3 separate regions of the Homo sapiens genome follow, and regions 2 and 3 are each linked to region 1. The links come from fine-mapping of genetic effects on gene expression. A gene starts in region 1. Each other region holds a variant in brackets. All regions are shown on one strand. Distances are between the middles of the regions.

Region 1 (4,239 bases):
CCAGATATGAACGATTTATTACCGTTTTGTCTTTTTGTTTGCTGTCCCTATTGTTTTTATACCCATGGGTTCAGGTTCAGATTGAATGAGAGGAAAGAGGTTCCCCCTTGCCTTCAGGGGCTCTCTCCCAGTTTTAGCAAAGAGGACACTTGGAAATAAAAGGTCTGTAAATGGATTTCCAGAACACTCTCTGCCGGCATCACTTGAAATATCTTCCTGTTTCCCCAAGGATCCATACCTCCAGTGTGAAGATCACTACCACACAGCATTTAGATCTCCGTTTTTGGGTCTCGAACCTGTTCCAGAGACCAATCTATGGCCGTTTTCCCTGGGGAAAATGCACATTTCCTCAACATGGCTCCCTTTAGGGTTTCAGGGGATTCCAGATCTTGATTAAGGGCCCTGCTGCAGCTGAGGGCTTTAGAGGAAGACAGACCTCAACTCAGGACAAGAGTTGGAGGCAGGGTTTGAGTTTAGGACAATTGACTACCAGTTTGCCTCTGGAGAGATTATTCTGGGGCCAGAATAATCTGCTGGTGAACCGTGCCTTACCCTAAAATAGATCCATTCCAATCTAGTCAGGACTTTAAAAGTGCCATAATACCTTGCCTGGATTTACAGCAGGTTTCAGGAAAGTACAGTATTCCCCTGTTTGTTTGTTTGTTTGTTTTAGATGGAGTCTTACTCTGTCACCCAGGCTGGAGTGATCGCCACCTCTCAGTTTCAAGCGATTCTCCTGCCCCAGCCTCCTGAGTACCTGGGATTACAGGCACCTGGCTACCACACCCAGCTAATTTTTGTATTTTTAGTAGAGACAGGGTTTCACCATGTTGGCCAGGCTGCTCTCGAACTCCTGACCTAAAGTGATCCGACTGCCTCGGTCTCCCAAATTGCTGAGATTACAGGTGTGAGCCACCGCAGCCGGTCCCTGACTCCTGTTTTAGTACAGCTCCTGGGCTACAAACGGTTTCTTACAATTTTAAATGGTTAGAAGAAACATATTTCGTAGCACCCAAAAATCCCTTGAAACTGAAATTTCAGTGGCCATAAAAATCATTTATTAGAACCCAGTTACACTGACTCACTTACATACAATCTATGGTTGCTATCACACTACCATGGCAGAGTTAGTAGTTGCTACAGAGACCACCATAAAGCCTAAGTTATTTACCGTCTGGTCTTTCACAGAAAAAGTTTGCCAAGCCCTGCTCTGGAATTCAGACAGCCTCTCAGCGCCAGCCTTCTCCAGGCAGCCCTCGCTTGCGGCAGCTAGGTTTTCCTTAGGCGGGAACTGACCTGGAGCTGGGCGCCCACTGAGGTTTGCAAGGCTGGGGAGCTTTTTAAATAAATAGGTGGGAAGGAATGAGGCAACCCTCTGGCCCAGATTCAGCCTCAGTGATCTCTGTCCCATCCCCTGAGCCTCTAGCTGGGGGAAAGCCCTGTCCCGTTCCTCCAGAGCTCAGGGCACCCCCCCTCCCTAGGTTCTTGGCTCCTTGGGTTGTTTCTTGGCTACTTTTCTCGGTGAAGGGGGCAGGTGGTCTTTAAGTTCAGAGCCTGTGGGCTGAGGCTGGGACCAGGGACAGTAGGAAAGGAGGGAGGCAGTAGGGAAGAGCAGGCTCCTTGCCTTCAGCCAGGGGAGGTGCCTGAGCCCGGGCAGTAGACAGGATGCAAGGGCAGCACGAAGCTGGACCAGTCGCAGCCAATCTGGCCAACAAGAGGAGTCCTGGGGCTCCACCTGACGCCATGGGCCCTGGGGTGCTGTTAAAAGCGCTGTTGGTCTGAGTGCTTTCCCTGGTGCCGTTGCACAGGGATTCACTGTTCCAAACAGCCCGTCCAACCTACTCTACAGATGGGACTCCCAAGACACTACGGGGATCCCCTGTGTGCCAAGTCCCGGGGGAAGCTGCTAGAGAAGGCTGGGACGTCCTTGCTCACCTCTGGCAGGGACAGATCAGAGTCCTCTGTGTGACACTCTGTGTCCCCAGTTGAGGAAGGCGGAAGGAGCTGCGGGCTCCTTTGGTATTCTAGGCTGGAGAGCCACCTGGCTAGGTGGGACCCTGGACACTCAGCCCATCTGCTCCTCTGGTCCTACAAGCCGCCCACCCTCCGAGAACCCCCGCCTATAATGCAGTTTACCCCTCCCCGTGCCAGCACGCAGAGTTCCTGGCCTCTCACCGGGGAAAGCTCTGCCCCGTTCCTCCGGAGCCCAGTGCGCCCCTGGCCAAGTTCTCCCAGCGTCCACTCTAGGGCCTGCTAGCACCCTCTCGGGCGGCGCGCCCTCTGCGTACCTAAGGAGTTCACGCACAGTTCGGCGGCACCGCAGACGGGGACTCCCAGGAGCCAGGCCCCGGCGCAGAGCAGCGGCAGCGTGGCCCACATCGCAGCGCTGGCGGCTTGGCTCTTGCGCTCAGGGTCCGCGGAGGTGGCGGCCCAGAGCGTCAACTGGGAGCGCGGGGGGGGAGCGGCACGAGCGTGGAGGAGCGGCGGGAGCGCGAAGGGGCGGAGCGAGCGCGGGGCGGAGCGAGCGCGGGGCGGGGTGGGCGGTACTCCCCCGAGGCCGGGCTCGCGGGAGGGGGCGGCGCCGACTAACTCGCCAGCTCTAGTTCACCTGTCGGCCGGCCGCGTCGCTCCCTTATCTCCTCTGGGAGGAAGGGCTTATCTGGGTATCAGGCCTGGCTGAGTCCTGGATCTGCCTGGACTGGCTGGCACCGCGCGGGGAGGTCTCAGCCTGGCCTCTCCCTCTCCCAGCCTGTCGCCATCCCCACGTCCCCCATCTCCCTGCGTGTCCCCACCTCGCACCCCCCCATCTCCCTGCCTATCCCCAACTCGCACCCCTCATGTCCCTTCCTGTCCCCACCTCACACCATGTCCCTGCCTGTCTTCACCTTGCACCCTCCATCTCCCTGCCTGTCCCCACCTCGCTCCCCCTATGTCCCTGCCTGTCTCCACCTCACACCCCCATCTCCCTGAATGTGCCCACCTCCCACCCCCTATGTCCCTGCCTGTCCCCACCTCCCACCCCCATGTCCCTGCCTGTCCCCACCTCGCACCCCCATGTCCCTGCTTATCCCCACCTCGCACCCCCCCATCTCCCTGCCTGTCCCCAACTCACACCCCCCATCTCCCTGCCTGTCCCCACCTCAGACTCCCCATGTCCCTGCCTGTCTCCACCTCACACCCTTATGTCCCTGCCTGTCCCCACCTCGCACGCCCCACGTCCCTGCCTGTCCCCACCTCGCACTCCCCATGTCCCTGCTTGTCCCCACCTCGCACCCCCCATCTCCCTGCCTGTCCCCACCTCACACCCCCCATGTCCCTGCCTGTCTCCACCTCACAGCCTTATGTCCCTTCCTGTCCCCACCTCGCACCCCCCATCTCCCTGCCTATCCCCACCATACCCCTATGTCCCTGCCTGTCCCCACCTCACACCCCCATGTCTCTGCCTGTCCCCACCTCACACCCCCATATCCCTGCCAGTCCCCACCTCACATCCCCCCATCTTCCTGCATTTCCCCACCTCACACCCCTATGTCCCTGCCTGTCCCCGCCTTGCACCTCCCATCTTCCTGCCTGTCCCCACCTCACACCCCCTCATGTCCCTGCGTGTCTCCACCTTGCACCCCCATCTCCCTGCCTGTCCCCACCTCATACCCCCCATGTCCCTGTGTGTCTCCACCTCAGACTTTCCCCCACACTCCCCACGTCTCCCTGCCCTGGTTAACCACATTTCCCTGGCTTCCCTTTTGCTTGGAGTGGACTTACAACTGAAGAAGCTAGACGACCTCCTTGTGAATTGTTTTGCCCCCTCAACAGACATTTTAGTCTTTCTGCTGAGGAAGCTACATTAAGAGCTGTAGGGCCATTCTCTGTAGTTTGCAAAGCTAAAGAAGATGGTATGTAAGGGTCTGGGTGTGAGACAGACAGAAGAACGTGCGTTCCAGGCTGAGGAGGCCGGTGCTGTCACTGCTTTGGGTGAGGAGAGGGTGATTCAGACCAGCCTGTGCCGTAGCCTCAAATGCCCAGTGATGCCCTGTTCTTCACTTACATCATCACCTTGCAAAGTGGCATGTTGTTGACCCCCCATTTTACAGATGAGGAAACTGAGGCCACAAGAGTAGATGGTAACTTTCCCAGTCTGTGCGCAGAGAGTGTCTGAACCCAGCCTTGACCTACTGCAGTGCTCTCTGCTCTGGGCTTGCTCTTTCTCTGTCTCTTCATTTTTAAATTTTTATTTATTTA
Region 2 (4,239 bases), 27 kb before region 1:
AGATAACTCTCTTTTATGAGTGCTTACTAAGAGCCAGATGTGACGCTGAGTATTTCCATAAATCATCTCAATTCTGTCCACAAAATCGTGAAGGCGGCCAAGCGCGGTGGCTCAATGCCTGTGATCCCAGCACTTTGGGAGGCTGAGGCGGTATGATCGCTTGAGTCCAGGAGCTTGAGACCAGCCTGGGCAACATAGTGAAACCCCATCTCTACAAAAATTAAAAAACTTTTAAAAATCACGAAGAAAATATGATTATATCAATTTGTAGACAATGAAATGGAGGCTCAGAGAGGGTAACTAACACCCCCACTACCGCCAAGGTCACACAGAAAATTCAAGGGAGAACTGAGATTGGAATCCAGGTGTGTCTGCTTCCAAAAAGTTGTGTTCCATTAGCATTCTTTCCACTGGATATTCTGGCAGGAGCTGGGCTTCCTGTCACGGACACTATGGTTTTGGGAGGAGATGCTTAGTTCACTCACACTAATAATGACCATGGTAGGGACATGCCCTGAGCCCCCACAATTAACATGTCTTGAAATTTTAAAGTCTTGAGTACACAGGCTTCTGCTTTTTTTCGTTTTCTTTTTTTTATTTTTATTTTATTTTATTTTTTTTTGAGATGGAGTCTTGCTCTGTCCCCAGGCTGGAGTGCAGTGGCGTGATCTCGGCTCACTGCAAACTCCGCCTCCCGGGTTCCTGCCATTCTCCTGCCTCAGCCTCCGGAGTAGCTGGGACTACAGGCGCCTGCCACCGTGCCCGGCTAATTTTTTTGTATTTTTTAGTAGAGATGGGGTTTCACCGTGTTAGGATGGTCTCGATCTCCTGACCTTGTGATCCACCCACCTCGGCCTCCCAAAGTGCTGGGATTACAGGCGTGAGCCACCTTGCCTGGCCTTTTTTTTTTTCTTTCTTTTCTTTTCTTTTTTTTGAGACAGTATTGCTCTTCACTCAGGCTGAAGTGCAATGATGCAATCATGGCTCACTGGAGCCTTGACCTCCTGGGCTCAAGTGATCCTCCCACCTCTCAGTCTCCTGAGTAGCTGGGACTACAGGCTCTGCTATCATGCCCGGCTAATTTTTTGTTTGTTTAGTATTTTTTTGTAGAGATGAAGTTTTGCCATGTTGCCCAGGACGGTCTTCAACTCCTGGCCTCAAGAACTTCTCCTGTCTTGGCCTCCAAAAGTGCTGTGATTACAGGTGTGAGCCCACTGTGCCTGGCTCATATAGACAGAATTACACAATGTGTAGTCTTTTGCGTCTGGCTTCTTTCACTTGGCCTGATGTTTCCAACGTTCATCCATGGTGTAGTGTGTGTCAGCACTTCCTTCTTAGGCTGGATGTTTCTTTGTATGGATGTATCATATTTTATCTGTCAGTTGACAGACATCTGGGTTGTTTCCCCATTTTGGCAATTATATATAATGTTGTTAGGAATATTCATGTACAAGTTTCTGTGTGTACATGTTTTCAATTCTCTTAGCAGTGGAATTACTGGGTTCATATAGTAATACTTTTTTTTTTTTTTTTTTTTTTTTTTACCCAGGCTGGAGTGCAGTGGCACAATCTTGGCTCACTGCAGCCTCCACCTCCCGGGTTCAAGCAGTTCTCCTGCCTCAGCCTCTGGAGCAGCTGGGATTACAGGTGCACACCACCACGGCTAGCTAATTTTTGTATTTTTAGTAGAGATGGTAAATAACTTTTGTATTTTTAGTAGAGATGGTATATAATTCTTTTTATATATTGCCGGATTTGGTCTGCTAGTATTTTATTGAGGATTTTCACATCTGTATTGATAAGGAACATTGCTCTGTAGTTTTCTTTTCTTGTGATGTCTTTGTTTTTAACCTTTGGACTTTAACTGTTTTTTGTTTTTTTAAAACTCTGCTATCTTTTCC[C/T]TAAGTGCAGGAGCACCTTAGTGTTAAAGACATAGTCCATGGGCCTGAGATTGCTAGAGGTCCGCACGGGGCCTGTCATGGAGTAGGGGCAGGGGTGATGACTGAGATCAATTAGGCAGTACCTGCTGTGTACCAGGCTCTGTAGCATCCTTAGGGTTCAAGTGCATTTGAAATTTACTTATCTCAGTTGGATGTAGCCATGTCTGCCGATCTCTTTAAATCCAAACAGCACCAAGGCACAGGCCATGCTGCTTGTTTCACAACAGTCCTGCCAACACTGGATGTTATAAACATCCTGTGTGCTCCCTGGTGCCTGGCACAGGAGAGGACTGCACACAGTGGATACTCTGCAGGTGTTTGGTAAATGGCTGAAAAGGAGGGAATTGGCCCCTGAAAGTCCCCCCCCCGCCCCCTCCCCCTCCCCCTCCCCCTCTTTTTTTTGAGATGGAGTCTCGCTCTCTTGCCAGGCTGGAGTGCAGTGGCACGATCTCGGCTCACTGCAACCTCTGCCTCCCGGGTTCAAGCGATTCTCCTGCCTCAGCCTCCCAAGTAGCTGGGACTACAGGTGCGTGCCACCACGCCAAGGTAATTTTTTTGTGTTTTTAGTAGAGACAGGGTTTCACCATGCTGGTCTCGAACTCCTGACCTCAGGTGATCTGCCCACCTTGGCCTCCCAAAGTGCTGGGATTATAAGCCGTGAGCCACCACACCAGGCCTGCAGGCCTTTTTATAATAAAAGACTCTCATCATTGTCTGGGTTTGAGACATTCGGGGCTCTTATGGAAAGGAGAACTCTGCTTCAAAGTCTCAGGTCTGTGTTCCAGCCCAAGCCCACAATCCCTGCGGAGCACCTAAATCCCTCAGGGGAGGCTAATTTTGAAAACAGTTATTTGATTTTTGTGGTAATTTGAATTTCTTTGGAACCTCACCCAGGACCCTCCCTTTAAATGAGTATTTAATTGGAATGTGGTTAATAATGTTCTATATTGGATCATTAATTGTGACATTTGTATCAAACTACTACATTCATCGCAGAGAGATCTGGGTGTGGGTGTGCAAGAATTCTCCTCTGTCTCCACAGTCATTCTATATCTAAACCCGTTAGAAAAGAAAATGTTCACTTTAAAAACAATATAGAGCTGGGTGAGGATTTAGGTTACATTGTTTTTCCAACCTACTGTTCAATTTCTAGCACTATTTTTTTTTTGAGACGGAGTCTCGCTCTGTCACCCAGGTTGGAGTGCAGGGGTGCGATCTCCACTCACTGCAACCTCTGCCTGCCGGGTTCAAGTGATTCTCCTGCCTCAGCCTCTCGAGTAGCTGGGATTATAGGCATCCGCCACCATGCCCGGCTAATTTTTGTATTTCTAGTAGAGACAGGATTTCACTATGTTGGCCAGGCTGGTCTTGAACTCCTGACCTCGTGATCCATCTGCCTTAGCCTCCCAAAGTGCTGGGATTACAGGCGTGAGCCACCGCACCCAGCTTCTAGCACCTTTAATTGAATGGTGAAAATGGACTCGTCTGTGACGGATGTATCGAATTCTTACTTCCTAGACCTGAGTGAGTAATCTATTCTTAATTGGCACACTGTTTTAAGGGTTAACATTTTGTAAATTTTAATATGTGAAAAAAATCCACCCTCATTGCTCATTTATAAAACTACCTTGGCCTTTTTTCCCCCAGATAAAAAGGATAACAGAATTTTATTGGGATTTTAGTTGGAAATATACCATCTGTACTTTTATTTCTGGCAATAATCAACTTATTTATGCTAATCTTTCCATTCAAGAATATGGTGTGCCTCGGCCGGGCATGGTGGCTCATGCATGTCATCCCAGCACCTTGGGAGGTCGAGGCAGGTGGATCATGAGGTCAGGAGTTTGAGACCAATCTGCCAACATAGTGAAACCTCGTCTCTACTAAAAATACAAAACACTAGCCAGGTGTGGTGGTGGGCACCTGTAATCCCAGCTACTCGGGTGGCTGAGGCAGGAGAATCACGTGAACCCGGGAGGCGGAGGTTGCAGTGAGCCAAGATCATGCCATTGCACTCCAGCCCGGGCAACAGTGTGAGACTCTGTCTCAACAACAACAACAAAAGAATATGGTGGCTCTCCATTTATCTAAGTCTTCCTTTATAGTGTTATTAATTTAGTAATTTTCTTCATATAAGACTTTTTGGTGGTTATTCCTAGCTGCTGGTTTTGTTGCAATAGTAAAGTTGCAATAGTAACAAAAAATAGTGTATTTTTTCTGAGTTTTTGATTTTTTTTTCTGGTATCCAGCCACTTTCAGAACTCTTTCATTAGTTCTAAGTTTTGTTGATTCTCCTGAA
Region 3 (4,239 bases), 34 kb before region 1:
TCAAGCAATTCTCTTGCCTCAGCCTCCCGAGTAGCGGGGATTACAGGTGTGTGCCACCATAACCCAGCTAATTTTTTTGTATTTTTAGTAGAGACGGGGTTTCACCATGTTGGCCAGGCTGGTCTTGAACTCCTGACCTCAAGTGATCCGCCTGCCTTCGCCTCCCAAAGTGCTGGGATTACCATTTTATTTTAAAACACAATTGTGGTTATATTGTTTTGATTTTTTTGAAAAGCTTTACATGAGATTTGATTTCTGGCTGTCTTTTGCTGCGCTAACAAACTGTCCCAGAACTTTATAGCTTAAAACAACCATTTTGTTTTGCTCATACCTTTCTGAATCATGAATTCAGGATAGGCTTGGTTGGGCAGTTCATCTTTGATCCATTTGGCGTTAGCTGCCGTGGCTGAAATTGTGGAGGATCTGCTTCCAAGATGGCTTCTTCACTCATGTATCTCGTACCTCTGTGTTCCTTGGCCCCTCTTTCCTCGACACAGCATCTCAACCACTGAGGGCTTCTCTGCATGGTTTGCACATCTCATACTGTGACTTGCCAGCCTCAGGCTGGTATCTCAGGACTCCAAAATTACATGGTATCTCAGGACTCCAATAGTGAGGGTTCAAAGAGATAAGAAATGGAAGCTGCCAGGCTAGTTAAGGGCTGTGGTTGAAAGTACTGGTTTTTTTTTTTTTTTTTTTTTGGGACAGAGTCTCACTCTGTCGCCCAGGCTGGAGTGCAGTGGTGCAATCTCGGCTCACTGCAAGCTCTGCCTCCTGGGTTCACACCATTCTCCTGCCTCAGCCTCCTGAGTAGCTGGCACTACAGGTGCAAGCCACCATGCAGTAGTCTTTACACTTATTTATTTCTTGACATTTAGAATATTGGAAACAATTAAGAAAATCAGAATTGAAAATGAGGAAGAAGAAATGTGAGATGAATGGTTGGTTTCAGAAGAACAGAAGCATGTGCGTTTGTGATGCAGCCTTGGGGGAGAGAGAGAAGGGCAGCTGAGCCTGGGATATGCTTCCAGTCCTGGGGAGGGGTTTGGGTGGTTGCTGGTGGTGTGTCTAGGGGTGATTAAGTTTAGACAAACCTCTGAGTGTGTGCGTGTTTGTGTGTTTGTGTGTGAAGAGGGAAGTTTGGTATGTCCTTGACCTGGTGCTCTGTGGCATAAAGTTACCATGGGCAGAGCTAATGGCAGATTGTCCTGGGCCTAGGAATGGTCTCAGCATTGCAAAGCTCCCTGGTGAACCTGAGCAATAAAGGTAGCACGTTTCCTCTATGCTTGTGACATATGTGAGGGCTACATGGTTTCCTTCAGGAACTAAGTCAACCTGCCCTTTCTGACCCCAGAGCCGGAGACACAAGGACTCACTCTGGGTGGACTGATCTGGGACCCTGGAGGTTCCTGGTACAACCTGTGTCCACTTGGGACACATTCTTGCACTTTTACTTTTCCAGAGGATTGTGCAAGCCTTTACTTCCATAGGCAGAGAATCTCATCCTTCCCCCTTGATCACCCTTCTCTTCATTATCCAAGAATTCCAGTCTTTCTGAAGCCATACTGGGAGACCAGAAAATTAGATGTGCGCATTATGTTACCATAGTGGCCATAAGGTGTCGCTGTTGTAAGGGTTTCCCCACAATCCATGGGCTCAGCCCATTCCGCCCACCTTCACAGGGCCGAGGTGGCATCCTACTCCAGTGCCCTAAAGCTGCTCCTCTCTTGGCCACCTCATGTTCAGCCATCATCCCTCACAGTAGGACACCCACCAGAGTTTCCAATCCTGCAGCAGCTTCACTCAGCCTACCCACTGTGCGAACCTGGCCTCTGTGAAATTTTAGATCCTGAACTGGGGCCAGCCTCCTCTCCTCCCCTCCCTTCTGAGGGAGTCCCCTTAAGATCTTTTCCTGCCGTGAGCCTGCTTCAGCGCATCCCAGACCACCCGAATGGCTGTCCCCAATTTCATCTCTGGGTTCCTGTGCAAATTGGTCCACCTTGCACCCTGGAATCCCGAGAGAGATCGTCTTTGCTGAACTACAAACAGCAAACCGGAGATCTTGTGTATAGCATTCCCCTAGAACAACACACACTGACTTTACATTCACATAACCACGGGAAGTTGGTCACATGATTTTTCCCATAATAATGAAAATCTGTTCTCTGTCTCTAGCCTAGACTTACTCTATCACTCTACATTTGCATAATTCCCTTAAAATGTTTTAAAAATATGCCAAGAACTATTTTTTAAAAAGCATCCCATAATATTACCTTTCAGCTACTCCCTTGTATCGGCTAGGCTCCCTGAGAAAGAACACAGTCTACTGGGTACTGTGAGGGGAGCTTGATAAAGGACTTGTTTACCAAGGTGGACAGGAGGAGGGAACCCACCAGGCCTTAGATGGGGCAGTGCCGTAGATGGAGTTACGTAGATGGAGCTCAGTTACCACCCTGGGCCTGGCGGGCAGGGCCAGGTCTCCTCACAGCATAGTCATTTTGAATCACTTTCAGACTTTTTAAGAATCCTAAGGACTCTGCATCCTCTTTGGAGAGGCAGCAGAGAGGGAGGCTGAGAACAGA[T/C]ACTCTGGAGCTGGAGGGCTCGGGTATAAACCCTGATTCTGCCACTAAGCAATTTTGTGGTTTGGGGCAAGTTGCTTAACCAATCTGTGCCTCGGCTTCCTCATGTGAAAGTGGGGATCATGATAGTATCTACCTCACAGGGTTGCTGTGGGGAGTTAGTGTGCTGTATATTTCTTAGTGCAGTGCCTGGCCAATAAAAAGTGTCTGTTAAACCAAGAAAACACCAGTGTTTGAGCTGAGCTGATTAACCTGCTTCACTCGCAAGAAGGAAGGGCTTCTCTCTTGCCCTTTGATAGAAGTCAAAAGACCAGCATCTCTGTAGGCTCTCAGAGTCCCTCAGGAGCATAGGGGAAATTGCTCTGTCAGTTTTCTTTTTTGAGACGGAGTCTCACTCTGTCACCCAGGCTGGAGTGCAGTGGTGCAATCTCAGCTCACTGCAACCTCCGCCTCCCTGGTTCAAGCAATTCTCTCGTCTCAGCCTCCTGAGTAGCTGGGATTACTGGTACCCGTCATCATGCCTGGCTAATTTTTGTATTTTTGTAGAGATGGGGTTTCACCATGTTGTTCAGGCTGGTCTTGAACTCCTGACCTTGTGATCTGCCCACCTCGGCCTCGCAAAGTGCTGGGATTACAGGCGTGAGTCACCGTACCTGGCCTACTCTGTCAGTTTTACCATCTTCTCCTTAGGTTTCTGGCGCAGGGGCTTTGGGCTTGGCAGGCCAGGAGTGCCCTTGGGCGGGGTCACCACAAGGGCTGCAGCCCTGATTCAGTATTCTTAACCAGCTGGTGGGATGCTTCCTCCTCTGTCCCCCATGGTTGCTGTTTCCCAGGAGGCCCTGTGGTCCTTCATGCAAGTTGCCTTTGGCCCCGCTCTCCAAGTCAGTCCAGGCTAATACAGCCTCATGCTGAAACTCTTGTGTTTACCTAAACTCTGAGTGCTGTTTGGATGCTAGGAACAATTACTAAAGAAAATGTATATATACACAGTGGAATGCTATACAACCTTTAAAAAGGAAATCCTGCCATTGTGATAACAGGGATGAACCTGAAGGATTTTATGCTAAGTGAAATAAGCCAGACACAGAAAACAAGTACCGCATGATCTTCACTTATACGTGGAATTTTAAAAAGTTGAACTCATAGAAGCAGAGAGTAGAATGTTGATTAGCAGAGGTCGGAGGGGGAGATATAGGGAAAGGGAGATATTGGTCAAAGATGTTGGTTTCAGACATTTTAGAGATCTGTTGCACAGTATGGTGACCATACATTTCAAAATAGCCAGAAGACTAGATTTTAAACATTTTCACCACAAAAAAGGGTAAGTAGGTGAGGTGTTGGATATGTAAGTTTGATTAATCTTTCTGCAATGCGTACATATATCGAAACATCACATTGTACCCCATAAACATGTATAATGATTGTCTGTTTAAAAAAGTTTATATTTCATCCTGAGTTCAAAACCCGTAACTGAATTAAGTGACTGCTGGTGGGAACCAGGTAAACCTTCCATTCAGCTTAACTTTTGAGATGAGCTTGGCATTTCTTGATGTTGCTAGGGGAAAAACCTCAGGAGTTGTGTTGTAACAGGAAGTTAAGAGTAAGATTGCTGATTTCATTCATTAGTTCAGTGAGTTTCTGTAATGAAGAATATATGTGT

Evidence for each region. PIP is the estimated chance that this variant, and not a neighbour inherited with it, causes the effect. A credible set is the group of variants that fine-mapping cannot tell apart.
Region 2: its variant is the best candidate, but not a certain one, in a credible set for the expression of CTSH in fibroblasts (GTEx, PIP 0.88).
Region 3: its variant is the best candidate, but not a certain one, in a credible set for the expression of CTSH in skeletal muscle (GTEx, PIP 0.51).

The regions. Positions count from the first base shown.
Region 1 is chr15:78,942,603-78,946,841 of GRCh38, forward strand. It overlaps CTSH (cathepsin H), which reads right to left and starts at 2,444. Exons shown (of 12, transcript NM_004390.5): 1 at 2,289-2,444. The coding sequence starts at 2,379. RefSeq lists enhancers at 647-696, 1,127-1,176, 1,637-2,175, 2,176-2,714 and silencers at 1,565-1,859, 2,297-2,646.
Region 2 is chr15:78,915,896-78,920,134 of GRCh38, forward strand. No RefSeq gene overlaps it. Among named protein-coding and RNA genes, the nearest start is that of CTSH, 27 kb to the right of the region's middle. The variant C/T (reference allele first, on the strand shown) is at 1,902.
Region 3 is chr15:78,908,353-78,912,591 of GRCh38, forward strand. No RefSeq gene overlaps it. Among named protein-coding and RNA genes, the nearest start is that of CTSH, 35 kb to the right of the region's middle. The variant T/C (reference allele first, on the strand shown) is at 2,583.